Regions from separate parts of the Homo sapiens genome. Here region 1 is linked to region 2. Evidence: fine-mapped expression QTL. A gene starts in region 2. The other region holds a variant in brackets. All regions are shown on one strand. Distances are from middle to middle. Region 1 overlaps TSNARE1 (t-SNARE domain containing 1). Region 2 holds the start of TSNARE1 (t-SNARE domain containing 1).

Evidence for each region.
Region 1: its variant is fine-mapped to the expression of TSNARE1 in skeletal muscle (GTEx, PIP above 0.99).

What each region holds. Positions count from the first base shown.
Region 1 is chr8:142,262,882-142,279,420 of GRCh38, forward strand. TSNARE1 (t-SNARE domain containing 1) reads right to left here. Exons shown (of 14, transcript NM_145003.5): 12 at 11,900-11,982. Among named protein-coding and RNA genes, the nearest start is that of LINC00051, 73 kb to the left of the region's middle. The variant T/C (reference allele first, on the strand shown) is at 8,537.
Region 2 is chr8:142,399,604-142,411,024 of GRCh38, forward strand. TSNARE1 (t-SNARE domain containing 1) reads right to left here and starts at 3,579. Exons shown (of 14, transcript NM_145003.5): 1 at 3,501-3,579. RefSeq lists silencers at 3,138-3,277, 3,418-3,987, 4,428-4,477 and enhancers at 3,709-4,484, 10,233-10,911.

The sequences.
Region 1 (16,539 bases), 130 kb before region 2:
TGGACTAACACACTTATTGACTATGTACGGAAACGCCTTTGATTGTAATAACATGTGGACTTTAGACGAGCCACTTCACAAACTCTCTTATAAATTCTACTAATTTGTCCAGGAGTTCTTTTTATGAATAAAGACAGTTGTGTTTCCTCTTTTCCAGTCTTTACATATGATTGGGTGTCCTTTCTAACTGAGCCCAGCTAGCACCCTCGACTTTCTCTGTTTTTAAAGGAGGGCTCCTCATATCTCACCGTGAATGTTCGCTGTTGAGGTTTTGGTAGATAATCCTGGTCAGTTAAGAAAATTCTTGCCTTTCTATTTTGATGAGTCTTAAAAATATGAATGGGTATTCAATTGTAACAAATACTTTCTCAGGACGTCTGGAAATGGCAATCATCTGCTTTTTCTTATTTCTTCTATTCCAGTGGGGTGAATTCTATTTATAGGTTTCCTGTTGATTAAATGAATAAATAAGCAGTGTTAAATCCACTTCCAGCGTAAATCCAACCTGGCGAGGATGCCGTATCTCCAAACACTTCTGGTTGCAGTTTGCTAGTGTTTTCTTTGGGATCACCACGGTTTAGTTCAAGGGGTGGACTGGCCTCAAACATCCCCTTCTCGTGTGCTTGTTCCTCATCCTATGCGTTTAGGAATTTCCCCTCTTTTTATTTTTCTTTGGAAGGTTTGTGTAAGACTGGATTTCTTCCTTGAAAGTGGGGTAGAATACGCTTTAAAAATCATCTGGGTTTAGTGTCTTCACCATGGAAAGAATTTTTCCTACTGATTCAATTTCTTTAAAGAATGACTGAGGCTATTTAGAGTTGATGTTGGCAAAGTGGACTTTTCTAGGAATCTGTCTATTTTTTAGCTGAGTTTCCCCATGTGTTGGCATGAGATTATCCATGGACTCCTCTTGTTATTTTGAAATGTCTGCTCTTTCTCTCCTGGACTGCTGTTGCTAGTAGTTCAACTATTTAAATGGTCCTTCCTAAGAACTGGCTTTGGACTTTGTAGCGCCTTCCATTAAAATTTTAACAAGTTAAAGTTAAAGTTAACTCTGCTCCTGTCTTTACAAGTTTCTTCCTTCTATTTCTTTGGGTTCATTCTGTTGTTCCTTTACTTAAAAAAAGTCTTTTTAATGTCTATTTTAATTTTCAGCTTTCTTTGGTAGTATAAGCATTGAAGGCTACTAAGTTTCATTGAAGTCTCCCACAAATTTTGATATGCAGTATTTTCAATAGTATCCAATCATGTCTTTGTACCTAGCTATTAACTTCATATCCCTTAATGATTTCTTCTTTGACCTCTGAGTTATGTAGAACTGTTTTAAAATTTCCAAACATACAATGACCTTTTTATTTTTTGCCACCAATATCTAATGGCTGCATTTTTCTAACTGCATTTTCTAGTGATTGAAGTGTTCTACACATTACTGATCTTTTGAAATGTTTTGACTCTTGCTTTATGACCTAGTCCATGGTCAAAATCTGGAAATATTCCGGTTGTACCTGAGAAAATGAGTGCCCTCTATTTGTGTAGCAGAGGGTTCTGTAAGCATCCGTGAAGTTCAGCGCTGGTGTTCAAATTTTTAGGTTTCCTGCTGACACTCCCCATCAATCTCTAAAACAACGTGCTGAAACCTTCCGCTGTCCTGATAGATTCATTGATTTCCTTCTGTAATTCTACCCACTTTTGCTTTATGTATTTTATTAAGTGTAGAAGGGTTTAGGATTTTTCATCCTCCCGATGAGCTGAACCCATTCTGGAGTGACTCCAGTGTATCCTTAATATATACTTTTTGTCTTAAAGTCCATTTTGTCTAAAATTAACATTGCTACTTAAGCTCTCTTTTGCATAGCTTTTGACTGGCAAATCTTCACACCTTTCCTTCCAATGCCCCTTTGGTCCTATGTTGGAGTGCCTCTCTTGTCAATAGTAAAGGTGTTATTTTTTCCTCCAATCTGACAGTCCTTAACTCTGATGAGCCCTTTTAATCTGTCTGCATTTATTTTGCTCACTGGACAGTTCCAAATGCTTCTTTGTGTTCTCGCCCTGTCCTGCATTTTTCTTCTGTGTTATCTGCTTCTCCTTTTCTTTTTGTTGCATTTTTTGCCTTCTCCTTTCTATTCAACATAGGTTTTTGTTTAATTGTATTCTTATTCCATTTTTACTGATTTGGAAGTTATATACTCTAATACTCTTAGGTTACCTTAGTCTTCAGTTTCTTATTAACTTTCTACTCAGTTTGTGTGTGTGTGTAGTTCTATGAAATTTTATCACATATGTAGATTCATGTCACCAGCACCATGTTCAAAATACAAAACTGTCCCACCACCACAAGGCTCTCCTGCAGCCTTTTACAACTGCACCCTACCCCACTCCACTTCCCTAACCCTTGACAACCAGCCACCGCTCTGCCCTCCATCCCTGTGATCTCGCCCTTTTGAGAATGTTACAGAAATGGAGTCACAAAGCATGGCCTTTTCGAGACTGGCTTTTTCATTAAGCACAATGCCTTAAGAACCGTCTGAGTTGCTGGCATTTCCGAGTGGGCTCCTTTTGTTCCTGGGTAGAACTCCACTGTGTGGCCGTGGCAGTCTGTTCACCTGCTCACCTGCAGAGGCACAGCAGGGCTTTTCCACTTTGGGGCCATGGCAGATAAAGACACGATGAACATCTGTGTGCAAGTGTTGGTGTGAACATGAGTTTTTCTTTCTCTAGGATAAATGCCCAGGAGTGAAACTGTTGTGTTGTATAGTAAGTGTTATGTTTACATGTTGAAGAAACTACAAAACTGTTTTTCAGAGTGGCTGTAACATTTGACATGCCCAACAGCAGTGCATGAGCGAGCCATTTCTCCTCACCCCCGTGCCTCTTGGTCACTTCAGCGGCAGGCAGTGGCATCGCGGTGTGGGCTTAATGTGTATTTCCCTCATGGCTACTGCTGTGGGGCATCTTTTCATGAGCCTACTTGCTACCCATATATCTACTTTGGTGAGTGTCGGATCAAATTGTTGTGCACTTTCTGATGGAATTGTTTTCTTTCAGTTGAAATTAGAGAGCTTTTTATATATTCTGGATACATCCTTCATCAGACATGTGATTTGCAAATATATTCTACTAGTCACTGGCTTCTCTTTTCATTCCCTTAACAGGATCTCTTGCAGAACAGAAGTTTCCAATTTTGATGAAGGAACCCTTGAGCTTTTTTATGATGTACAGTTACTAGCACAGGCTAAAATTAATCAATATTTAACTCCCCTGCAAATACAAGGATCTCAGAATATTTGGACAATTCTTCACCTTTAATATACTATCATTGTCCAGTAGTTCCATCCTTTGTAAAAAATCTATTCCACAAATTAGACATTCTAGTAATTATGGACTTTTTAAAACCTTAATGAGGATTTGGATTTACTTACACATTTACCAATTTCTTGGTTCACTATTCTTCTTGCATTACACATACTCTTTCTGGGATTCCAGTCCTTCACCTTGAAGTCCATTTTTTGGAAACCCCTTTTCATGAAGGCCTGTTGGTGGTAAGCCCTCGCAGTTTTTATTTGGATAGAATGTCTGTATTTTGCCTTTAATCTTGAAAGGTAGTCTTGTCAGTTGCAGAATTCTAAGTTGACAGCGACTTTCTCTCAATACTTTGTAGATACTACCATTTTCTGGCTTCCTCTGCTGCCAATGTAATGTGAAATGTCGGCAAATTTGTCATCACTTCTCCCTTCTTTCAAATTGCTTGAGGCTTTCCCTTTCTCTGTGCTGTTCCACAGTTCACCCATGATGTGCCCAGGAAGGTATTTCATGTATGTGTTCAGTATGCTCGTGCTTCCTGTGTCTGTGGAATCACACATCACATCAACGACCTCTTCACACACTGCTTTCCTCCATTTCACTGATCCTCCTCTTCCGGGACTCCAAGACGACATATGTTGCATCTCTGGTTCTACTCTCCCCATCTCTTCATCTGTCGTAGTTTCTATTTTCTTACCTCTCTTTGCAACATTATTTCTTTAGAAATCTTCGAGTTTGCTATTACTAACTTCATCTATGTCCAGTATGTTGCTTAACCCATCCACAAAGTTCTTCATTTCTAAAAGCCATACTGATATTTCACAGATCGGCCTAATCACTTTTTAGAATCTTATTGCTCATTTTTGTGATTTCATCTTTTTATTTTTAAAAATATTTCACAGAAATCATATTATATGTCTGATTAATTGCAACAGCTAAAATCTTTTGGGGTCTAAACTTGATATTTTTGCTCTTGTTGGATATTCCTCCTGGTTTTCCCTCAACGGCTTTCCCCATTACAGACCAAGTGATTTCCAACTGGAGGCCCAAAAGATTCTTCTTATTTTGTGGGTATCCCAAAGGCCTGACTAGGGGATCTTTTCTCCAGAACCTTCTTCTTGGATCCAGGATCCACAGGTGGACCTGGTGCTTATTCAGGCTCAGGGCAAGAACCTTCCTCATTTCCTGAGATCCTCTAGGGTGGGCAAGCTGGCCGTGCTCATTTGAGCCAGATGGATGAGGCACCTGAAAACTGTCCTCACTCACCTGGAATGCAGCACTGCGTAGGGAAAGGGCATGAACTTGGAATCCAGACACCTGGTTCAAGGCCTGCCTCTAGCACTCTCTGTGAACCTGGACATGACCCTGCAGCTTCAACACCACCCCTCCAATACCACCCTGGGCTCTCAGTCTGTCTGTAAAATGGGGGACCTAGTGAGGGGACCCGGGCTCTCTAGCTCTGACAGGAACCATCCCTGCCACTCCCCCCGGCCTCTTTCTAAAACACACCTTGGAAGGCCCTGCAGGCAAGCTCCGCCACAGAATGCCACATCCTATTTCTCATCACAGACCCACCATCCTCCTAATCTCTCCTGGTAAACATTTGGGCTGCCTGGGGGATGGAATGCAAGAAGCACAGTGTCCAAGGTGAGCAGTGTGGATACGAATCCCACTGAAATCCCATCTGGGATAGGTCGGCAACCCTCAAGGTCTTCCCGGGTGCCTCTCTCACACGCTTGCTAAGAGCATTCCTTCCTCAAAAGCTCTGATCCTGACAGGTTCCTGGTGAAGCCAAGACCACAGTCTCCTTCCTGGCGAACCTCAGGCCACCCCTGGCCCACATCCAAGAGAAGGGGTTTCCAGGCCCAGATCTGAGGGCAACACTCCTGGACCCTCCTGGTTCTCCTTTCATCCAGAAACACCCTTGCCCTCAGGGCCAGGCATGGCCTCTGCCCTCCCTGCGTGCCACCTGCCATTCCATGCCCCCACTGGATGATGGAGCTTCATGGACAGCCATCTGCTGTCCTGGCCATGCTCCTGCCTGGCCTCTCGGCATCTGAGCAGCTCTCAGGAAACTGTCCTAGAGTGCAAAGGGCACGTGTGCACTGTGGAGACACATGGACCAGGACTTACCCATTCTGCCCCTAAGTTCTCGAGTCCCTGCTCCTCAGCCACAATGCAGAGGTGAAGCCGGCTCTCCTAGCTTGGCCCTTGGTCTTCTCTGCCTGAGGTACTTCTGGATCTTCCTGCCCCTCGCTGGCTGCAGTGATTACTGCCAAATCGCCTTGGAGGCCTCTGCTGTCCGTCCTGCAGGGAAGCCCCCGACACTCTAGACTGTGCAATCCCAGCTCTGTCAACGCCCCAGCTTGGCAGATTGCACGCTGCCTACCCCAGCATCCAGTCCCTTCCGTCTTAGTAACAAAATCCTGATTTGGGGCTGAAGCCGTGTTTTCCAGCTTCTAATGCAACGAAATGTGGGCATCTGACTAACTCCCAGTCAGTGGGCTGAGATGCAGGCAGAGATCTCCTTCAAGGGAGGGTGTGTGACCTTCCTCCATTCCTTCCCTACACCCTGCTACCTGAAACACAAGCGTGATGGGGGGAGGCCTGCAGCCATCCTGGGCCATGAGGACCACGGCAGAGAAGGGAGCAGAAAGACACCTGGACCTCTGAGGACTGTGGCCCTGCCTTGCCAGCTCCAGGTCATCAATGTCGGTGACGTAGGGGCCATGACGCCTATCTACTCTAAGACACCCTATTCTCTGTTTCCTACCAAATGCAGTTACACTGATTTTTAACTGATACACAAAATAACTTTCATCAAATATGTACTGACTTGCTTAGTATACGTTTTCTGTAGCACACGCTAAGCTCTGGAAGAAGAGGCCTCAAGTTTGCCTTGGTTGTTTCTGTATCCTCAGCACTTAGTAAGGGCTCAGCCCAGAGGATACTCCCAGAAGATGCCTGGACTGACCAGGGTCAGGGCTGGGGCCAGAGCTTAGTGTGTAACTAGGATCAGGCTCAGTGTGTGATCAGAATCAGGGCCAAGTCTGTCACCAGGATCAGGGCTAAGTCAGTGACCAGGATCAATGCTCCATGTGTAACTGGGGTCAGGACATAGTGCAGGAGCAGGATCAGGGCTCAGGGTCAAGGCTCAATGTGCAACTGCAGTCAGGACACAGTGTGGGGTGAAGGTTGGGGCTCAGCTAGCACCAGAGTAGAGGCTGTGTCCAGGTTAAGACTGTAACGCAAGACAGAAAACACACACAGCCATACGAGGCCACTGTCAGCCGTGCTGGGTATCTTTATTTATTAAGCTTTATTTTCTGTAGAAGCAAGGTTTTGCTATGCTGTCCAGGCTGGTCTCGAACTCCTGGCCTCAAGTGATCTTCCTGCCTCAGCCTCCCAAAGTGCTGTGATTACAGGCATGAGCCACTGTGCCCAGGCCATGGTGGGTATTTTTAATGGACAAGAACCCAGAATGAAGATCTACAGAGGCTTCCTGGAGGTGGTGGGACTGAGGTCATCTGGTTTGGCAGGATGGAAGGCCAGCTTTCCCAGGGTGGAACCATCAGAGTGGAGGCCCCGCCCAGAACCAACAGCAGCACCATGCGCACCCATAGAAGGGGTAGCCTGGAGGGAGGCCAGGCGTGCGCAGAAGGCAGCTGGACATGTGGCTACACCTCAGGTTCTTTCATAGACAAGTTACTGACACATTGCTGGCTCCAGGGGAAAACGCAAAACGAGGAAAAGGCCCCTCTCCCTGCTCTCAGGGATGCTGTAGTCTTTTGACTCTCGGCTGTGCCAGAGCTTCCCCGGAAGCTCCTGGGACCAGCATGCCTCCCACTCAAGCCAGTCAGCCAGCATCTTGCTCCTGGGACAGGCTTTGGGCCATGGGAGCCAGGCAGAGGCCCCAGACTAGCCAAGGCCCGGGCTGGTCCCACCTCCCGCTCCTGCTCGCTCCCGACGGCTGCCTAGGCTGGGGGGCTGCAGACTGTGCCCTGCCGCGCAGGGACTGGAGATGTGGCAGCCCCGCCAAGGGATCTCCCAAGAGTCAAAGGAGGTAATGGAGGAAGAAGGATCTGAAGACGCAGGGAAGTGCCCAGGCCCCCGCAGGGAGGCTGAAAGCAGCGGTGCCTGCCACGCCCGAGAAGCAGGCTCCAACTCACGTGCTCGTCAGCAGCCGCACTGCTGCCTGCTTTGTCATTTTATGCTTATGTAAAAAAATACTTTTTGCAAGAAAAATCTACAGGTACAAAATGTCATCCCAGCCCCATACAGTACCAAGTAATATATAGGCATATATATATATATATATATATTTATGTATTTATAACAGAAAATTGGATAGAAATTATTCCAGGCATATGGGATGTGGTTCCCCTGGGCCAGAACCACGTAGGGCAGAGGAGCCCTGCCCTCCAAGTGTGCATGCCCACCAAAGGGACAGGGGCTTTCAGGAGTCACACCAGATCACGCTTGGGACCTTTTTAGAGCCTGGCTGAGCCACCCTTTCCAGAGTTCCAGTGAGCAGGGGGCCCCTCAGTGCATCTTCCCCACCTCCCCTGCTTCCAGGGACGCTGGGCTGCAGACTTCGCAGCTGCTGCCACATGGGGTTGGAGCCTCCAACAGCATCATCCCTGAGTAGACCTGGTCCACTGAGTCCCACAGGTCGGCTCTCTGCAGCCTTTCCCTGCAGGTCACCACCCTCTACAGGCAATGGCAAGGACGCGACATCACAGGTAGACAGCCCACATCCTCTCATCCTTCCGGTCTCCTGGACTGGAGTTGTCCCGGTGCCCTGGAGACCCAGTCACTGCCACCTCTCCCCTGCCTGGACTCAGCAGGGGAAAGACTGGAGGCCCTGCTCCTGCCCTTTGGCTCTGCCAGCACCCCCGACCAGCCCTATATCTCCTCCTCCACCTTCAAGATCATCCCTGAGAAGACCTCGAGCCCCGAGTGGGTGCCCTTGGGGCTGTCCTGGGAGCCTCCAGCAGGCCCCTGGGCCACTCCACTGGCAGGACTACCGTCCTGGAGTGAGGGTGAGGCTTCCCGGGTAGGGCGTGCTTCCACCAGCCTCTCGAGGGTCCGGTTGAGGGCCTCCACGCCATCGGCCAGACGCTGGCTCTGCTCGGCCAGCCGCTGCAGCAGCAGGTTTTGCTGGGCCATGAGTGTGCTCTGCTGCTGGGCCCAGGAGGACAGCAGGGCGCCCTGCTGCCGGTGGGAGTCCAGCAGC[T/C]GCTGCTCAAATGCGGACGTTTCAGATGCTGCCGCTGGGGTCCTCCTGGAGGGCAAGGGAGGTGCTGGCGCCGAAGAGGGCGGGGAAGGCTGGAAGGCCCCCATGAGTGTGGTTGCTGGTGGGGTGGAGGCTGGGGAAGCAGGTGGGGAGGGTGAGGAGGTGGGTGCGTGGAAGACTCCTCGTAAGTCCAGGGGGTCAGGTTCAGGCAGGCTGGGCCCTTCCAGGGACCTCAGGGGCAGCCACAAGCAGCTGGGGGTCTCGTCCTCCTCATCAGCTAACAGAGGGAGACAGGAAAATGTCAGCCTGCACACCCAAAACCCAGTGATCTGGAGGGTGAGCAGGGTGCAGGGAGAGTGCCCATGTGAGGCCTCTGCACCTGGAGCTGTATGGGTCTCACGATGCTCCGTCTGCAGTGGGAGTTGCACCCGTTTGAGAGATGAGGAAACAGACCCAGAGAGGTGGGCACATTTACTCTAGTAGTGCTGGGACTGAAGCCACAGCCTGTCCAAATGCAAAGCCTGCGTGCCCACTCATCACAGCACCACTTGTATTCATCCTCCCACCGACTCCCCTGTGCTCCATCCGCTCGTCCGCCTGCCCTCTGGTCTACCCGCCATCCTGCTACCCAAGTGTCTATTCCTCCACATAGACACGCCCACCACATCCACTCATCTGTCCACCTGTCTGTTCATCACTGTCCAGCCAACCCCTTCCAACCTCCTCTTCCTTCTATTCATCCATCCATCCGTCTACTCACCCATTTATCCATGCTGTCTGTCCATCCACCCAGCCACTCACCCATCTACTCCTTCCTCCTTCCATCTACCCATCCACCTGCCCGTCTACACCTTCCTCCTTCCACCTAGCCACCCGCCCATCTACACCTTCCTCCATCTACCCATCCACCCGCCCGTCTACACCTTCCTCTTTCCATCCACCCACCCGTCTACACCTTCCTCCTTCCATCCATCCACCCGCCCATCTACACCTTCCTCCTTCCATCCACCTATCCACCCGCCTGTCTACACCTTCCTCCTTCCATCCACCCATCCAACTGCCCGTCTACACCTTCCTTCTTCCATCCATCCACCACCCGTCTACAGCTTCCTCCTTCCATCTACCCACCTGTCTACACCTTCCTTCCATCCACCCACCCGTCTACACCTTCCTCCTTCCATCCACCCACCCATCTACACCTTCCTCCTTCCATCCATCCACCCGCCCATCTAGAGGCCCCTCGCAAGCGGGAGCAGGACATTCTATGCAGAGGCGACTTCACAGAGGCCTCATCCCTCCTGACACACCGTGGGGAGGGCCCCTTGCAGGTAGGAGCAGGACATTCTACGCAGAGGCGACTTCACAGACACCTGGTCCCTCCTGACACACCGTGGGGAGGGCCCCTCGCAGGCGGGAACAGGACATTCTATGCAGAGGCAACTTCACAGATGCCTCAACCCTCCTGACACCGTGGGGAAGGCCCCTCGCAGGCAGGTGGGAGCAGGACATTCTATGCAGAGGCAACTTCACAGATGCCTCATCCCTCCCTGATACTCCCTGGTGGACCCCCTCGGGAACAGGAGTGGGACAGTCTATGCAGAGGTGACTTCACGGCCGCCTCCTGGGCCTGAGCCTTGCCCACCTCCTCTGCAGTGTGTCGGGGGGGCGGTGCCTGCTCTGCCAGGACTGAGCCCACAGGCTCACTGGGAATGCGGCACGGCGTCCATGGCACAGGTGGCTGGCCCAGTTGCCACTGCCCTCCTTTCCTCCTCCTCCTTCACCTCCTCCTCTTCCTCACTGTCCCATCGTCCTCCTGCCGTCCCAGGCATCAGCGCTGCTTCTGACCAGGTGATCCCAGGGTGCTCAGGAGGGGTCATCTTGCTGGCTGGCTTTCCTCTTGAAACAAGGCCTTCTGCGTGGTGTGGCCCTGAGTTTCCAGCGAGTCCACCTTGCCCGTCACCAGGCGTCACCTTCTGCCCATCACCTTCTGCCTCCTGGAGGCCCCTGGGCCTAGCTGCCCTCAGCGACTAGAGGTGCTGGGCCAAGGGCTGAGGCCAAACAGCCCAGAGCTGGCGCCAGGAGACCCAGCCCCAGCCTTGCCTCTGACCTCATCCTGCAGGTGACCTTGGCACAGCCTCTCCCAGGTCTTGTCTCCCGGCCTGGCGTTCACCAGCTGTCAACAGGGACTGACCCTTGGTGACCTGAACCTTCTGAGTCTCATGGCCCCCGACAGAAATGGGGAGGCCCAAACTGGGATCAGCCTCCCCGTTACCACACACTCCCACAGTGGGGGTGCCCGGGCTGGGTCCCACTGGGGAAGCTCAAGGCAGCCCTGGCCTTTCCCTCATTCTCCACCCAGTCAGGCCCCTGCGTGGTTCCAGCTGCGGCCCCCTTTTCCTCTTGCACCCCTGAGGCAACTGAGGACCCTCTGCGGGCACAGCTGTGATATCCCAGCGTCCTGGGGATGTGGCTCCTCTCTCGTCACACCTGCCTGTGATGTCCTGGGCTCGTCTGGCTGCTCCTGGACCCTGGCCTCACACCCACTGCACCATCTCGTCTGCCAATACTGCCCCTGCTCCGCCCTCAAGAGTGTGTGCTCTCCTGGCCCCAGCTGGCCCAGGGGCTTCTTCTGCGCTCCCACCGTGGCCCATGCCACCCTCACCTTGCTGGACTTAATGTCCAGCCTGCCTGGCCCCTGGGACTCCTTGAGGAACAGGCTCTGGTCATCTCTGCCCGTCAGGGCCAGTGGGGAGCACCAGGCCACAATGGGGACAGAGCCAGTGAGGGGAAGACAGCGGCTGGGCCTCCATCTCAGCTGGGCCACAGTCTCCAGCCAGCCTGACCTGTCAGGTCTTCTTGTGGTGACCACAAGTCAGCAACAAGGCCCAGTGAGTGGCTAGTCCTCAAGGTAGCTCCAAGTCCCACTTCAAGAAAATAAAGGCCTGAGCTTTCTTGTTCCCTCTGAGCCACTGACCTGCCCCAACCACAAAGTCCCCTCTGCAGTTCCCCGCCCCAGTATGGACACTGAGCTGCATGTCAGCATCTGGCACAGGAGGTGGAGCGGGAAGGCCCCAAGGGCCCTCCCCTCGGCTGCACCCCGGATCCATGGGAGAGGGCGGCGTGGTGCATACAAGAGAGGAGACGGTGCCGACCGCTGTGGGCACCACGCAGACCACTGCTGCCGCAACCCCGCCACTCCCAGAGCCCTAGGGCACGGGCAGCAGACTGGTTCAGAGGAGGCCTGTGGGCATGCCCCTCCCAGGCACAGGGCAGGGCCTGGGCCCCTCCAGACAGACGGAGGGAGGGTTGGAGGATAGGGGACGGAGGCCGGGCCGGCCGGGCACTGTGGCCCTCACACGGACTTACTTGGTGCCGGCTGGCTCCAGCCAGGAGCTGGCGGGCTGCCTCCGCATGCGAGGACGCAGCCTCAAGGCTGGCTTCAATACTATCTGCAAATCAAGACAACAGAAGGCAATTACAGATGGAGGCCCAGCCGCCCCCGCCCTGAGGACACCCCCCAAAGGCAAGCCCAGGGAGCCTGAGCCCAGGGCCTGCAGAGGAGCAGAGGCTGCAGGGATGGGCGCTGGGCTGCCAGACGTGCCGAGGGCTCCGCGTGGTGTGGGCAGTGGGCAGCAATGACATTAGAACGGAGGCCTGGAGGTGGCCCAGGGAAGGGGACTCCTCAGTGCCCACACCAGGTGGGGCAGGAAGAGTCCACTCAGGAAAGGGTGGGAGTGGCAGGCGGAGGTGAGGGCTGGGGTCAAGTCCTGCTCTGTCATGACCTTGCCTGGGCCAGCCCCTCCACTCTGTGGCCACGGCCCCCTCTGAAGGGGCAAAGCCCCTGCCTTAACGTCTGTGGAGTTGCGACGCGGCTGATGGAGACCGGGTCTGCAAGCACAGGGCTCTGGTTTGCCACACGCACTGGCCCTCGACTCAAGCACAGGGAGCTGATCAGAAAGTTGTGCTGCCGTGCGGGGATCACGGGAGATGGTACCTGGGAAAAGCCGGGCTCGGTGGCTGCAGCAGTGCCACCCAGGGAAGCCACATCAGCAGGGCCCACGGGAGACACCAGACCAGGGCCGGGGCAGCCCCAGGGATCCGGAAGATTCCATGCTCAGCATTGTCTTCCACCCAAAGGAAGGACACATGCCACCTGGGCACCAGGAGCGCAGGCACAGCCGGGGTCCTCAACAGAGCCACATGCAAACACGAGCAAACACGAGCACGGGCAAGCCTTCTTCCCGGAGGGAGGTTCCTTGCAAGGCCTGCCTCCAATCAGGCAACTGGAGAAGAGCTTGGGAGGCAGGAGTATCTAAACAAACTGTGCACCTGCAGTGCCTACCAGGGCACAGACCTGAGCTGACTTGAGCCTCAGGGGTCTTAAGGCCTGGGATAGAGAGGCCATTACAACCACAGGGACTGCTGCCAGGCACAGCCTGGCACGACTGGCTCTGAGGGAGGAGGGTCCTCAGAAAGACAAGGCCACTCCCCACCGTCCCAGCAAGGACTCCCTACTCTCATCAGGGAACTGTGGCCCCATCTCTGCAAGCCCCCTGGGCAGGAGGTGGAACCCATGAGCCCTGCCTTCAGAAGCCCCCACCCAGGCCTCACAGGGATCCTTGAACCCTTGGTCACCAGCTCCACCCCACCCTTGCCCCCAGCGCAGGGCCCTAGTGGAGCCGCAGGCACTCGCAGACACACCCTGATCGCCGCATCTGGGGGCTCCTGCCCTAGCCAGGGAGGGGAGAGCCAGGCTCCTGCACAAGGAGCCAAAGCCCAGAGAGCGGGTATGGGTGACGGCCTCGGCCGCTCCTGGAGCAAAGCACCCCTTTGCTCACTTGCAGACAGCCCCCAACTGAACTCTGCTCTCTATGTCCTGCCACATTAGGGTCACGACCCTCTGAGCCAATGGAGGAGGAGAGGGAAGGAAGATGGGGCCAGAGGTGTGACGGATCCCCCCACAATTGCCACTCAGGAGGGACCAGCCTGCCAGGGAGGAGGCGCTAGCCTGGGCCCGGGCAATGCCCCGCTCACGTGCAAAGGAGCCACCTTACACCTGCAGTGGTAACAGCCTGGCCTCGCTTCTGTTGCTGAGAGGTGAATGTGGACAGTGGAGAGCATTTGCCAGCAGAGACAGGAAGGCCATGGTGGTCTGGGCTAACACAGGTGGTGCTGGACAGGCCATGTGCCCTGGCTGGACACTTTCTCTGCCCCGTGACCACACGCAGCCTCAGCCAAGCCCTGGACCCCACCCTTGGACTCAGCCTGTGCCCAATCCTGCTCTACACCTAGCCCTGGCCCTGGGGACTCTGATCGTAGTGTGTGACCTGGAGGCCCACCCTCAGAATGGGGACTGATGTCCTGCTGCTCCAGGGCTGCATGCACCGGCCACAGACCCAGGGCGGTCCCAGGGGCATTCTTAGCCAGCATGGCACTGCCCACATTCAAGACACCTCACACAACCACTGCCCAGCTCCGCAGCCAGCAACATCTCCCTCAGCGCCCAGGCTGCCAGGTGGGCACGCCATGTCCTGCCCCGGCGCAGTGCACAGAGATGCACAAGGGGAGGGGGGCTGCTCCCGGTGCTGTGCGGCCGCGTGTTGCTCGTGGGGTGAGGACAGGTTTGGTGCGTGGGACCTGTGGTACTGAGCGACACTCCAATACCTCATCAGCCATCAGCCCTGGGCCCAGTGGCTTTGTCAGGTCTTGGAGGCCCCCAGTCTGTGAGGTGAGCCCTGCAGAGCCACAGGCCCTGGGCACCTGCTCCTCCCAACACAGGGGGTGCTCCACGGGGGCCCCTTGCACATCCCCTGACTCCAGGAGTCCAAGGGATACCCAAGCACTAGGCCAGAGGCCTCCAGGGGCCAGAGAGAGCAGCCTTTGGGACCGCCCTCCCCAGACACTCGCAGAGCAGCACACACACCTCAAAGGAAACTGCCTGCCCAGTGCCCTCAGGGCACAGGGACCCCTGTGGGAGACCCCCCTGCACTGGGTCAACTCGCTGCCCCCAGCCCCACAGCCGTGACCAGCCCTGCAGGCCTGGCCCTGCCCAAACCCCAGGCAGTGCCGCTGCAGAGCGGAAAGCATGGCCGGCTCGGGGCAACTGGGCCTGCAGCTGGGATGCCCCCACCCTGTCCTCAGGCTTGGCAGCCACTTTCCTACTTCCTGCCTCTGCGCCCACAAGAGGAAGTCTGGCCCTGTCCTAAGCACTCTCGCTTGGGAATTCAACACGTCAGTTGCTGTCAGCAGCAGGGCAGGCCACTCAAAGCAGCTCACAGGCACCAAAGACTCCCGTGCTGCAGGGGAGCCCAGCGGCCTGGGGACCTGGAGTGGCTGATCCACCAGGGGTCACAGAAGTCGAGGCTGGGTCTCAGTCTAGGGCAGGGAACCACAGGGTGAGCAAACCTGAGTTCCTGCAGCCTCCAGGGCTGAGGACTTGCAGAAAAGGACTAAGCACCTGGGCCACACCAGTGCCACCCCTGCCAGGCCCCTCCTTCTCAGCCCCACACCACATGTCTATCCTTGCCATGAAGCACCCCCAAACCAGGTCTGCCTCTGCCCATAGGACCCTTGGCTGCAAGAATCTGCCCTTCAGGAGACAATGTGGCCTCAATGGGGGTGGATCCAGCCATCCCTGGCCTGCACAGGCCTGAGAGGACCCAGATCCTCCTCCAGCCCCACCCCATCAGGAGGCCCACTGACCAGGCCCATCCCCCAAGCCCCACCACAAGGCCTAGTGCCCAGGCCCATCGCCCAAGGCCCACAGCCCAGGCCCCTTGTCCAAGCCCAGCCACAGGGTTGGCTGGGTCTACATGCGTCTCCCAACCAGTCCGGCCCACTCTGCCCATGGGTCCCAGCCTCATGCACCGCTGTGAGCAGGAGCAGCTGAGGATGCCCCAGCGCTCCAAGTTCTGCCATGGCTGCCACTGGGGGCGTTTGAGGCCAGCCCCTGCCTGTCCTGTGAGGCTGGGTCCTTCTGTCCACTCTGTGGCCCTCAAGGAGCTGGTCCTGCTTCCGGGGCTTCGTTCCCAAAGTCCTTCCAGCAGCTCCCAGGAAGGGGAGGGTCCAGCGGGGCTCTGCTTCGAAGGGTGTGCCACCATATGCGGAGGACGGCGAAGGAGCTCCTGGCACGGTGTCTTGAGGAGGAGAGGAGGTGCGGTGGGAGGAGGCACGGAGGCGGCAGGAGGAAGCACGGAGCCAGCATCACCCTCAGAGCCAGCGTCACCCTTGGAGCCAGTGGCAGCTGCGGGCTGCAGACGAGGCCTGACCAGACAGAAACGCCTGGCTTCCGGTGGTCCCTGGAGTGGGCCCGTGGGCTCGGAAGGGGGCACAGCGTGCCTGACAGGCTGAGAGTCACCGGACAGCACCACGTGTGGGGCTTCCAAGTGGGCCCAGAGGGAGGGGCCTGCAGAAGGAGGGGGAGGCCACTGCAGGCCAGAGTGAGGCACAGCGTGGGGCGGGGAAGAGTCAAGCTGGGGCCCAGGCTCCTCCCTGGCTCTGCCCAAACTCCTCAACGTGACCAATGAATGGACAGGTCACCTGCTGCTCCCTGGGAGCTATGTCAAGGGCCAGCTGGCTGGAGGTGCATATGGGCTGAGGCTCCTCCCACCTGCTGGCTGGCCTTGCCTTCTCATGGTAGCTGTACGCTGGGGCTCTGGGGCTGGGGGAGAGCGGAGGGAAGCCCTCCTTCTTCCCAGACACCCCTGTCTTCAGACCCTGGGGCCAGCTGGGCCCTGCTGCCCTGCATGGGAAAGTAGGGACTTCTCCCTGCTGGGACCCACTGGTTTGGAAGACCTGGCTGCCTAAGGACAGCCGTGCTCACCGCTGGACTGCATCTGGAAGGGGAGGGCTGCCCGTGGAGAGGAAGGCCAGGCCGGGACCCGGGGCCAAACAGGCCTCCGGCCACACGACACCAGGCGGGAACGGCAGAGGCCAAGATGGGGGCCTTGGAGGGCACCAGGGCACCCTGGGCTGCACCCGCTGCTGCTGCACGTCGGGGAGCTCAG
Region 2 (11,421 bases):
GGCCATGAGCTCTCCAACTCTCTCACTCACTCCTTCTTGCCTTTAGTCTTTTGGTCACCACTGCTCCACACACAGATGCCACAAATGTTTAGACAGGGCTGAGCATCCCAGCAGAAAGCAGAGGAATCTGAGAGGAGGGCTGCTCAGGAGTCTGCTACTATGGACGATGCACAAATCAGACTTTAAAGAACACAATGAATGACAGCTGGACTGGGCCACAAGGTCAAAGTCTACTTGTAGCAAGTAACACCATCCAAACAAACCCAGTAGCCACAGAAACGCCCGTGTGCATTAAAACAAAAAGCCTGGAGCCAGACGCCATGACTCACGCTGGGAATCCCAGCACTCCGGGAGGCTGAGGCCAGAGGATGGCTTAAGGCCAGGAGTTCAAGACCAGCCTGGGCAACTGGGCAACACAGTGAGACACGCCTATCTCAAAAAAAAAAAAAGAGGTGGCTGGGCACGGTGGCTCACACCTGGGATTACAGTGTGTGGCTCAGGCAGGTTGATCACCTGAAGGTCAGGAGCTTGAGTCTAGCCTGGCCAAAAAGAAGAAGTGGCTGGGCACAGTGGCTCACGCCTGTAATCCCAGCACTTTGGGAGGCTGAGGCAGGTTGATCACCTAAAGGTCAGTAGTTTGAGTCCAGCCTAGCCAACATGGTGAAACCCCGTCTCTATTTAAAATACAAAACATTAGCCAGGCGTGGTGGCAGGCCCCTGTAATCCCAGCTACTCGGAAGGCTGAGGCAGGAAAATCACTTGAACCCAGGAGGCAGAGGTTGCAGTGAACCAAGATTGCACCAACGCCCTCCAGCCTGGGCAACAAGAGGGAAGCTTCTCAAAAAAAATTAAAAGGGCCGGGCACGGTGGCTCATGCCTGTAATCCCAGCACTTTGGGAGGCCGAGGTGGGTGGATCACAAGGTCAAGAAATCAAGACCATCCTGGCCAACATGATGAAACCCCGTCTCTACTAAAAATACAAAAAATTAGCCAGGTGTGGTGGCAGGCACCTGTAGTCCCAGCTACTTGGGAGGCTGAGGCAGGACTCCGTGTCAAAAAATAAAAATAAGAAGAAGACAGCCTAACCCCTAGCCAACTGTTCTTATGGCCAAACACCACTCAGAGGGATAAAACGCCCAACAACCTCGGAAGAAATGTGTCTGTCTGGGCTGAACAAATGACGTCCTAGAACCCGACAGTTGAGGGACTCACGGCAAGATCACCATTCTGTGTCTCAGTCTCTCCATCTGGGAAATGGGGACAACAGACCCTCCTCCCAGGGTGACTGTGAGAGTAAACTGAGTAATGAACACAGTTCCCTGGTCACCTGGCACCAGGAGGTGCTGTGACCAGTATCATTAGTGTCACCACCTGCAGACACTCACCACCCCTTTTCAGGACCGTGGAAGGATGCACCCACGCCGTGTCGCGAATGGCTTGGTACAGCCATGGTCGAGGCATGTTTGTCTTTCCTCCCCACCTGGAAGGTGACTCCCCAACTCCGCCCACCTGGAAGGTGACTCCCTGATTCCATCTCAAGCTCCAGCATCGTGACCTAGCTGTACTTCTCACCACATTCTCCTCAAAGTCTTACGTGTCCAGTGTATTTATTCATCAAAACCTGCTAGGTGCTTATCCTACTCTCGGTGCTGGGTGGGGTGCTCAGGACACAAGGGTGACACAGCAGAGGTCTATGCCACAGAGGCTCCCAGGCACACAGGAGAGACAAACACGGGAGTGCCAGGGCATTCCAAGCAGAAGGCTCTGCATCGACAGGCACACCAGTGAGAAAAGCCACAGACTATGCAGGAAAAATGACTGCACTGTCAGGGACATAAAGCAGGGACTGAAGATGTGGCAGGAGCTGCTGGCAGGAGCCAAACCCAGGACCTCGCTCTGCAGGCCATGAGGAGCTGTGGAAGAGACTTAGGGACACCTGGCTGCCCATGAGCCCCTAGACTGAGTGCCTAGGTCTAGGCTCTTGACCCAGCATCTACAGAAGGCCAGACTCAGGGGAAGTGTCCAGGGAAGGTTCCTGGATAGAGTCAGAGCAGCCAGAGGCTGCCAGATGTTCATGGGGCCAGGCCAGCAGAGGAGGAGAGAAACAGAGGTGACCCAGCCAAAACTCAACCTCCTCCAGGAAGTCGTCTTGGATTTGCCAGCCTCCCACAGCCACCTGCATTCACGGCCTGTGCTGCTGTGTCCAAACATTTGTTCTACCAGATTTCTGCTGCGGTCCTGTGATGTATGGGGTCGAACGGTATGAAAGCAGCGGTTCAGTCGGGGGAAGCACTCCAGTACTAACAAACTTCAGCTTTCTTTCAACTCAATACTGTGTCCACACTGGGAGTATCCTAAGCAACAATCCCCACCCCTGTCTCACAGGCACTAAAGATAAAACAGAAAACAAGCAGATGAGTGACAATGACAAACAAGAAATACTGTAGGGAGAGCGGTCAGAAAGGTGAGCTCAGACATACCGGAAGCGGAGCTGCCCCCAAGCCAGGAGCGAGCCAGGAACTAAAAGAAGAGGCAAGTGTGCAGCAGAGGAAAGAAAGGGCGCCAGGTGTGGCTGGAAAGGCACCTGGCAGGATGAGGGGCGGAGAAGCACCGGCGGAGCAGCACGCGCGAGGCCCATTTTGAGCCGCACCACACCGCTCACAGAACTTCCTGTGATAAGCAGTGTTCCCTACCCGCGCTGCCCCACACAGCCGCCACCAGACACGTGTGGCTACTGAGTGTCGGACATGTGACCACTGGCACGGAGGACCTGAATCCTTCACGTTAAGGACAATGTAAACAGCCACACATGCCTAGGGGCTACCACACTGGACATGGCAGAGCTTCCAGAGCAGGAGGAGTGCGCCATGAGGCAACAAACACGAGGTCCCTGGAGAGTTTCTGCGGGGGCAGCACAGATCAACATCACCTGAAAGTCCCTGGTGGGGATGTCGCAGGCCCCAGTACCCAGGAAGCACCTTCTTACAACTTGGAGAAGGGACAGAAAGGCATGGAGAGGCAAGCACACAGGAACGGGGTCCCCAGCTCAGGCTCGAAGGCGGGCTCCGCTCGTTGAGCTGCAGGGCACCAACCCTTGCACCCAGCAAGTAGGCGCTGGGGCGCTCCCCGGGACGGCACTGACCTCCAGGCGCAGGCACCGGCTGCCCGGCCCAGAGCCCACCGACCTGGGGTCTGAACAGCGCGCGAGGACCCGCCGAGGGGCTCATGTGCCCGCGGGCCGGTCCCCGAAATGCGGCGCTCTCGCGGGGCTGCGGCTCAGGGTCCCTGGCGCCCCTGGGGTCCACCCCCGGCACGGTCCCGCCCCCTCCCCTCCCCACCGGCGCGGCCCCGCCCCCCGCCCGGCCTCCCGCAAGCCCCATACCACGCCACGCCGCGGCCCCCGCCGGGCTCCGGGCCCCGCGCTGGTCCCCGGCCGCCTCGCCCTCGCCGCCCCACGCCCGGCCCCGGCCAGGCCCCAGCCCCACCGCCGCCGCCTCACCTGGGCCTCGGTGGCTCGCGGACCGCTCCGGGCGCTCACGGCGGGCGAGGCGGGCGGGGCGGGCACCCAAACATCACGTGACGGCCCCTCCCGCCGCCGGCGTGCGCGCCCCCTCCCGCACCAGCCAATGGCCGCCGGTCCCGGACGCGCGCGGGGACTACCCGCCCCAGAGGCCCCGGCGCGGAGCCGGAAGCGGCGCGGACGGCGGTCGGCTGGGCCAAGAGGCCTCTGCGGGTGCGCGCGCGAGTCGGCTGTCCTCACTTGCCTGGTGGTGGGCCTCCGTTTCCCCGTTTCCCCGTTTTGCATATGGGGATGACGGCGAAGGTGGAGGTCACGTGGAGGGCGGCGGCCCGGCGCTGAGGCGCTTCGGGAGCGGGCTCCGCCCAGCCCAGGCCGAGCCCGGACCTCACACGGGCCAAAGCTGGAGCTTCTGCGGGGCTGCGCAGGCGGCGGGTCTCGGCCAGGGCAGGGCCGGGCACCTGCGCGTCTCGCGCTGCGGGGACGGGCGTTGGGCCCCAAGTCAGGCTGCACGGGCTCCGCGTGGGGCCGTGCTCGGCCGGGGGCTGGCAGGCCCCGCGGGGACTCCGGACTCCCAGTGTCACCAACGAGGAAACTGAGTCTCAAGACATCTGAGGGACCTTTGCCCGAGGTCGCAGCCCCTCCCTGGAGGAGCTGAAGTGCAGAGTAGGGAGCCCCTTGCGGAGACCCTCCTGGGACCTCCTTCCGCAGGGGCCTGGGGCGCCTCCCTTTCCCTGCTCTGCCTGCGGGCACTGAGCTCCCGAAAGACTCCAGCCCCTCGCTCTCCCGGTGACCTGCTGGAGAAGACACCTGGGAGGAACCTGCGGACAATGGGTGTGTGTCCTTGGGCCGCCAGGGTCACCTTTCAGCCTGTTTCCCCAGAGGTGAACCAAGAGTCACACCCAAGGCAGGAGAGCAAGAGTGATGAGTCCGCTGCACCTTCTCCGGCAAGCGGAGGTTCTCCCGCCGCCCTCACTCTGTGATGCTTGCTGTGCTTGCGAGGCCTACGCCAAAGCCCTGCGGGCAGCCCTGGGCTCCCGCGGACAGCCTTGCTGAGCTCCTGGGAAGGAGGCGTGCCCTCCCCTTCCCCCACCGCCCCGCTGGCTGGGGTTCTCTGCAGCCCAGGACTGTGCATGTGTGCGCACACGGGTTCTGTGAACACGAACACAAAAGTGTGCTCGTGGACACTGCGTGGTACTGTGTGCACACAGCGCACGTCTGTGAGCTGAGGGAGTGTTCCTGGACACCAGGTGCAAGTGCACAAGTGTGTGTATGCTGGCACAAGTGTGTGCCCAGGCGCAAACATGGGAACGGTAGTATATGGCACAAATGTGTGCACACATGGGTGGGAGGGAAGAGGGGCACATGCCCACCAGCATTCCTGGGCTGGTGCTCAGGCCGGCCTGTCCTGGGCCCACCCACGCTCCTTGCCTTGGTGTATTTCAGTCTCCCCTGGGCTCCCAGGAGGCAGTAGTGTGTGCCTGTCTTGCAGCCTCGCCATGATTTGGACAGGGCTTCACTCTTCGGCTAGGACAGCTAGAGTGCAGGGAAGCCGGCTCCTAACCAGGGAGGATGCCCATGACTGCTGACCCCCCAGCTTCCACTTGAAGGGGAAGGTTCGCCAGGACCAATGCCTGTCTGAGAGCTGTCAGTCTGGACTGAGGATGCCGGGTGCCTGGCACGGTGCCCACCTCCCCTTCCGTGGCTGGCGCTGTCTGTCTGGCCGCCACCTCACTCAGCCTCCTCTGACAGCTCCGTGTTCAGGTGTGCAAAGGAGGGGAAAGTGAAGCCCTTTCCTCCCAGGGCAGACCACCTCCAGGAGCCGCTTTCTTGACCATACAAGGCGTATATGGGGCTGTTTCTGTGCCTGGACACTGCAGGGGGAATGGTCTAGCGTGGGTAGGAACCACCAGAGGAGGGGCTCCGTACCTGTTGGCTCCTCCGAAATCTGGGATGAGCCCGCCTGAGTGCCCCACAGCAAGTCAGGGAAGGTAAACCTCTCCGTGGAAGAGCCAGGAGCCCACTCCCTCAGGCTGAGCCGATGGGGAGGGGGAGGAGGATGCTAAGGGGTCCTCAGGAAGGGATGAGGGAAATAGCCAATAGCTGCCTGGGCCTAGGGCCGGGGCTCCCCTCCCTTCCCTCATCTCTGCCCCTCCCTGGAAGAGGTCATCACATGACCTCGGGCAGCTCTGGGCTCCCTCCTTCCTCCAGAGAAGCAGGACTCCCTGGGAAGAACTCTGGTCCCACCCCTTGGCCAACCAGTGAGACCAACAGGGTGAATAAGTGGGATTGGCCCCAGGACGCTGAGTTCTGTTACCTAAGGGGGTGGGGGTTGCCTGGTCCTCAGCTGGCACCCCCCAAATTGGATCTACCATTCCAGGTCCCAGAGGGAATGTGGGCAACAAGGTTAGGGGGTGGTTCCAAGGCCTTCGGAAGGAACGTTGAGGCAGCACCCACTAAAGCCAACCTCAGAAATGCTCCCTCTCTGAATAGTAGCATGGACTTCTCAGGGTTTAAGCTGAATTTCCAGGTCAGTGTCAACCTATGGCTTTGTCGTGAGTTTCCCCACCCTCCCACCCTTCCTCTCTACCCTCTGCTGCCTGGCTTCAATGTCACCTGCTCAGGAGACCATCCCTTGCTCCCCTGCAGCCCCTGCCTGGACAGGAGAAGGCCTGTGCACCTCCTGCTCTGCTCCCAGCACAGCTTCTGCTCCAGCAAAGCCCACGGGCACTCAGTCCTTGATTCCTGCACCCACCAACCCCGCCGAGCCGCCCTCACTATTACCCAGGCCTCCTTTGTCCCTTAGCAACAGAACCCCAGTTTTGTTCAAGGCATCAATGTAGCCAGCCTCACCAGCAGCTGGGCCAGCTGTGACACTGTTTGCCCAGGGGATGACTGCAGGAGGCACAATCGAGCCTCCTGGTCCTTTGGAAGGGGCAGCTGTGGCCACCCACCTCACTGACAGTCTTCCTTTCTCCTGGCTCCAGCCTGAAGTGTGGGCACGGCATCCCGAGGACAGCAGCCATGTGGCCAGCAAGGGGCAGGGTCCCAAGCTGAGGATGTGAGCAGCTGCCTTGGTGCCCCAATGGCACCGTCAGACTCATCACCATGGGGAGAACAAGCCCCTGCTCCCTTTATGGGTCTGCCTCATTGGATTTCGTCAGGTTTTCTGTAACTGAAGCCAGTGCCACTTCCATTGTAGCTGATTTGGGCTCCTAAGCTCACGGGAGTGGGACATCGTTCTATTAGCTGCGTCCTGCCCCTCAACAACGATGGCTCCTTGCGGGCAGGCCCCAAGGGCGCGTCATGGCCCCACACACCTGGAACACACAGTGCCCCACACCTGGAACAGCCTGGAGGAGCTTGTGAGGCATGAGGGCGCGGGAGCCACACTCTCAGGTGCCTGTTTTCCACATGTCCCCATGCAGCCCGGGCTTCCAACCACATCTTAAAAAATAAAAAGACGAGGAGGAGAAGAAACTTTGGTCCTAACACCAGACTAAGCCCTGTCTTGCTGTGTGATGCTCAGCCTGAGGCACACCTTCTCTAGGCTTGTTCACCAAAGCCGCAATGCAGGGGCAGAGCGGTCATGAGGCCTGCCCAAGAGTGAGGTTGGTAAAGGGCTGGGCAGAACCAAGGGCATGGGGTGTGTGGGAGGGTGGCGGTCCATTCCCTTGTCACCCACGCAGAGGCAGTGTCATGAGGGGACACGTGGGAGTCTCTGGGAAGGGCCTGACACAGCCCCAGCACAGGACAGTGGTCTGACCATTCAAGACTCAGTCTGCGTCATCAGAGACCAGGCTCTTAGAAACCAACTCCATCCTGATGTGCATAACAGCCTCCCAAGGTGTTTAACATGGAGCAGGAGTGACAAAAAGAAAAATGAAGTAAAAGAATAGAAAATCCATCAACAAGCATGTGGAGTGCTGTTCTTGCTGATGCATCGTCCAGGAAAGGACACTTGCCACCCTTCCTGGGAATGCTTCCCACTCCCCGACCCCCTCCTGGCATCCATGAGCCTCAGATCAGCAGGTGGGGACGTGGGGACAGGAGGAGTCTCCGCCCTGCAAGGGTGCAGTCCCCCCAGATTCCACAGCCACTGCTAGGCCTGCTGCTGGGCACAGCTGCCCGTTTCTTTCCTGCCACAGTTCATCTCATCGGCAAAGCCTGTCTCCTCTTTCACTCATTGAACAAGCTTTACTTCCACGCCGCGCAACATGCTAGGATCTGGGGATAGCATCCAGTTTGATTTGGTTGCTGATGACAGAACAACCCAAATAACAGTGGCTTGATTGACGGTTGCTTTTAATGTGATATTTTTATGTCCAGGTAGGCAGTAGGACTGGAAAGGTGGCCTCACAATCATCAGGACCCCAGGCCCCCTTAGTCTGGTTGCCCCATCAATCCCCAAATAGGCCTTTTGCCTCACGGTACCAGACGGCTGTTGAAGCTCCAGCCATCATGTCTGCTTTCAGCCAGCAGGGAGGAAACATTGGCATACTCTTCCCAACCTTGCAACCCGTGCTTTTAGGGATGCTGCCTGGATTTTGCACACCTCACCTCTGCTTACAGCCCCCCTTGGCCACAGCTGGGTCTCGGGTACTTCGAGCTGCAGAGGAGGCTAGGACATGTTCCACCCCAGGGGCTGTGTTCTCAGCTAAGAGCTGGACTCTTGCACTGAGTAAAAAGGGAAGGTTGGGGTTACCTGGCAGTCTCTGCATCAGGACACAGCCCTGTGCACCACCTGGCAGGCAGGCCAATGTCGACAACCTGCAAATCACACACGTGTGTGCTGGGAACCTGTGCTGAGGCCCTGCAGGAGCGATCAGGGGCGTGGGGGCACCCGGGGGGATGGGGATCAGGGAAAGCCCATCAATGAGGAGACCAAAATGGGCAAGTCTTGAGGGGTAGCGTTTCTGGGGGGTGAGCTGTGAGTACCATGGCGAGAGAGGAGCCAGCAACGTCCACGTCCCACTCCCCTCTGTGGACACATCCTGACCCCTCCAGCTGCTTGGGGTCGGGAGGGTTCAGACGGCCCATCTCCTGGCTCCTCCTCATTCCACAGGTGAGAAACCTGGTAGGGGAGGGACACGTACAGGGTCTCAGACCAGCACCGGGCCACTCTGGGCCCAGCCCATGTCACCTCACCCCAGGCTTGGTCTCTGCCTCCTCGTCATGGCACCTCCCCTCTCCACACATTCAGCCTGTAACAGCCACGAAGTCATAGCCCTGTGGAGTAACCAGTGAGCCGAGGGGACTTTATTTTGTTCTGCTTCCATTTTTTTTTTTTTTTTTTTTAGACACAGGGTCTTGCTGTGTTGCCCAGCTGGAGTGCGGTGGTGCAATCAGCTCACTGCAGCCCTGACCTCCCAGGCTCAAGCAATCCTCTCATCTCATCCTCCCTAGTAGCTGGGACTACAGCTCATTTTGTTTGTATTTTGTGTTTTTTTATTTGAGACAGGGTTTCGCCATGTTGCCCAGGCTGGTCTCAAACTCCTGGACTCAAGCGATTCACCTGGCTCAGCTTTCCAAAGTGCTGGGATTATAGGCATGAGCCACTGCACCCAGCCTCTGAAGGGACTTTGAAAATGCTATCATTCACCACTTCTTTTACAGTCAACAGCACACGTTTTGGTTCTGAATGTGTGGTTCTTGTGTGTCCGCTGTTTGGATTTAGACCTGGTACCCAAATGAGACCAGGACACTTCACGCTGGGCAGTGAGCATCCTAGACATGCACGCTGGGCAGTGAGCATCCTAGACGTGCACGCTGGCACCTGGCTTCTTGGTGGACACCTTAGAAACCATCAGGAGCCACTGGTGAGTGGGGCTGAGGGCATGTACCCACGTGTGAGAGCCCGCGATGAGAGGCATAAGCATGAACACGATGGTGACTGTGGCGGCAGCTGCTCCCTGAATGCTCCCCTATTCTCCCCCTGATGCAGCCACACTTCCGACCCCTCTTGTCGTCTAAGGCCCATGTGGCTGGCCCCGTGCGGGAGTGGGTGCAGCACGCCCTGCCATCCTTCCCTGTACATCTGCCTGTGGCCAGGAGGCAGGGCCGCCCAGCAGCCTCGGAGCCACAAGAGGGAAGGAACAGGTCCCAAGGCTCTCGTTCTTGTCCTGGGAGTCACTGAGTTGAGTGGACAAGGGTTGAGTGAAAAGAGAAGGAGAGAGGGGAAGGGGCCGCCTGCTGCAGGCCCTCAGCCTCCCCTTCCTGCATTCTAGACGTCCACTTGGGGCGCTTGAGGAAGGGGCATCGTGTCCCAGGAGAGAGGCCTCATCCTATTGCGGAGAGGGGGATGAATGGGGAGCTTGTGCATGGATGAGGAAGACGAGCAAATGACAGGGGGATCATTTGAGTGTCAGGGAGGGAGAAGGCGGCCACCTCTGCCACCTCGAGTGGGCAGCCCTGGGCCTGTGGAGGAACAAGACATGCCCTCATCCCCCAGGCTGGGGGCAGAAAGAGCAGAAGACTGCGCCCTGACCTTTGGGTTCCCCTGGGGGAGACCTGGTGAGCGCTCAGGGCAGGGCCGAGGGCAAGCGCTCTCCCTCCTGGCCCTGCCTCTGCAGCTCTTCAAGGAGCTGAGCCAAGCCGTCCCTTGAGGGGCAGGGGCTGAAGAAGCCCCATGCTGGGACGCATTTCACTGACACAGCCCACCTGTTATCCTATGAGCTGCTCTGCAAAGGCACGTATTATTCTCTCGGTAATGAGGGTCGGTTTAGGGACAGACGCACTTCATATCCCTCCTCCCTGCTCTGTGCTCCCTCCAGCTGAGCCACCAGAAGCTCCAGCCTCCCAGACAATCCCTGGGGCCCTTTCAGCCTGGAGGCAGGGAGTGTGGTTTGACCCCTGGCTCCACCGTGTGCCTGCTGGGTGGCCCAGCGCATCAGCCTCCTCATCGGTGCTATGCACACCAAAAAGTTCCCAGCTCCGTGGAGCCAACCTGAGGCTTGAGTGAGTCGATGCAAGAGAAACCTGGAACAGTGCTGAGCACAGGGCCTGGCCCTCTGGAAGCCCTGGAACATGCGAGCTCATGCATTGTGTGTGGGTGAGCATTTGCCATTGACATCTTGCATGGATGCCCAAGCACCAAAGCCAGGCATGGGAGCTAAGGAACACAGCATGATGCCCTCAGGGTATCTCGGAAGTTGAAGAGGTGGCAGACCAGCCAAAGGGGTCACCGCTGGACCATGAGACTGTTGTTAGAAGGTGATATGAGGAAACACTACGTTCTGTCCAGGATGTTGGAGAGGTTTCCCAGAGAAGGAGCATTTGGGCTGGGTGTTGAAGGATGAGTAGGAGTTTGCCAGGCAGGAGCAATGTGGCTCTAACATGGCTGCTGGAGAAGGTTGCCACATCCACCTCCTGCATCACTTTCTGCCCCAACTCCTATTCCAGACATGGCATGTAGGGACTTGCCCACACCTCCTCCCACCCTTGGCCCCCACCTCTCTTCACATCTGCACACAAATGCACTCCCAGATACTCACATACAGTCACAAACATTCTTATACTCACAGAAGCTGGAGTTGACTCCGCTGTGCTGAAATCAGCCTCCATGCCCACTCAGAAACCCAAAACACCCCGACTTCTGCACACAGGGAAACACGGTAATGAGATGCTAACGAGCTAAGGTAAAAATCAGGGAGAACAGCGTTTTGCAAAATCACAACAGTTTGTACTTCCAGGGGCTCCCTCCCCAGCAAGCGTGCTGCCAAAGCTCACGACAGTGCTGTGTGTGGGCTGAAAGCAACTGTGGGGGGTGGGGGGGGCACCTCCTAGGTTGTTGATGGAAGCAGAAGGGGTCCTCGAGGTTGCCGGGGTGTGCCCGGCCCCAGGCCCTGCCCAGCAGTGCCCCTCTCTGCTTGGCTTACACACCTGGTCTCCCTGGGAAACTGCC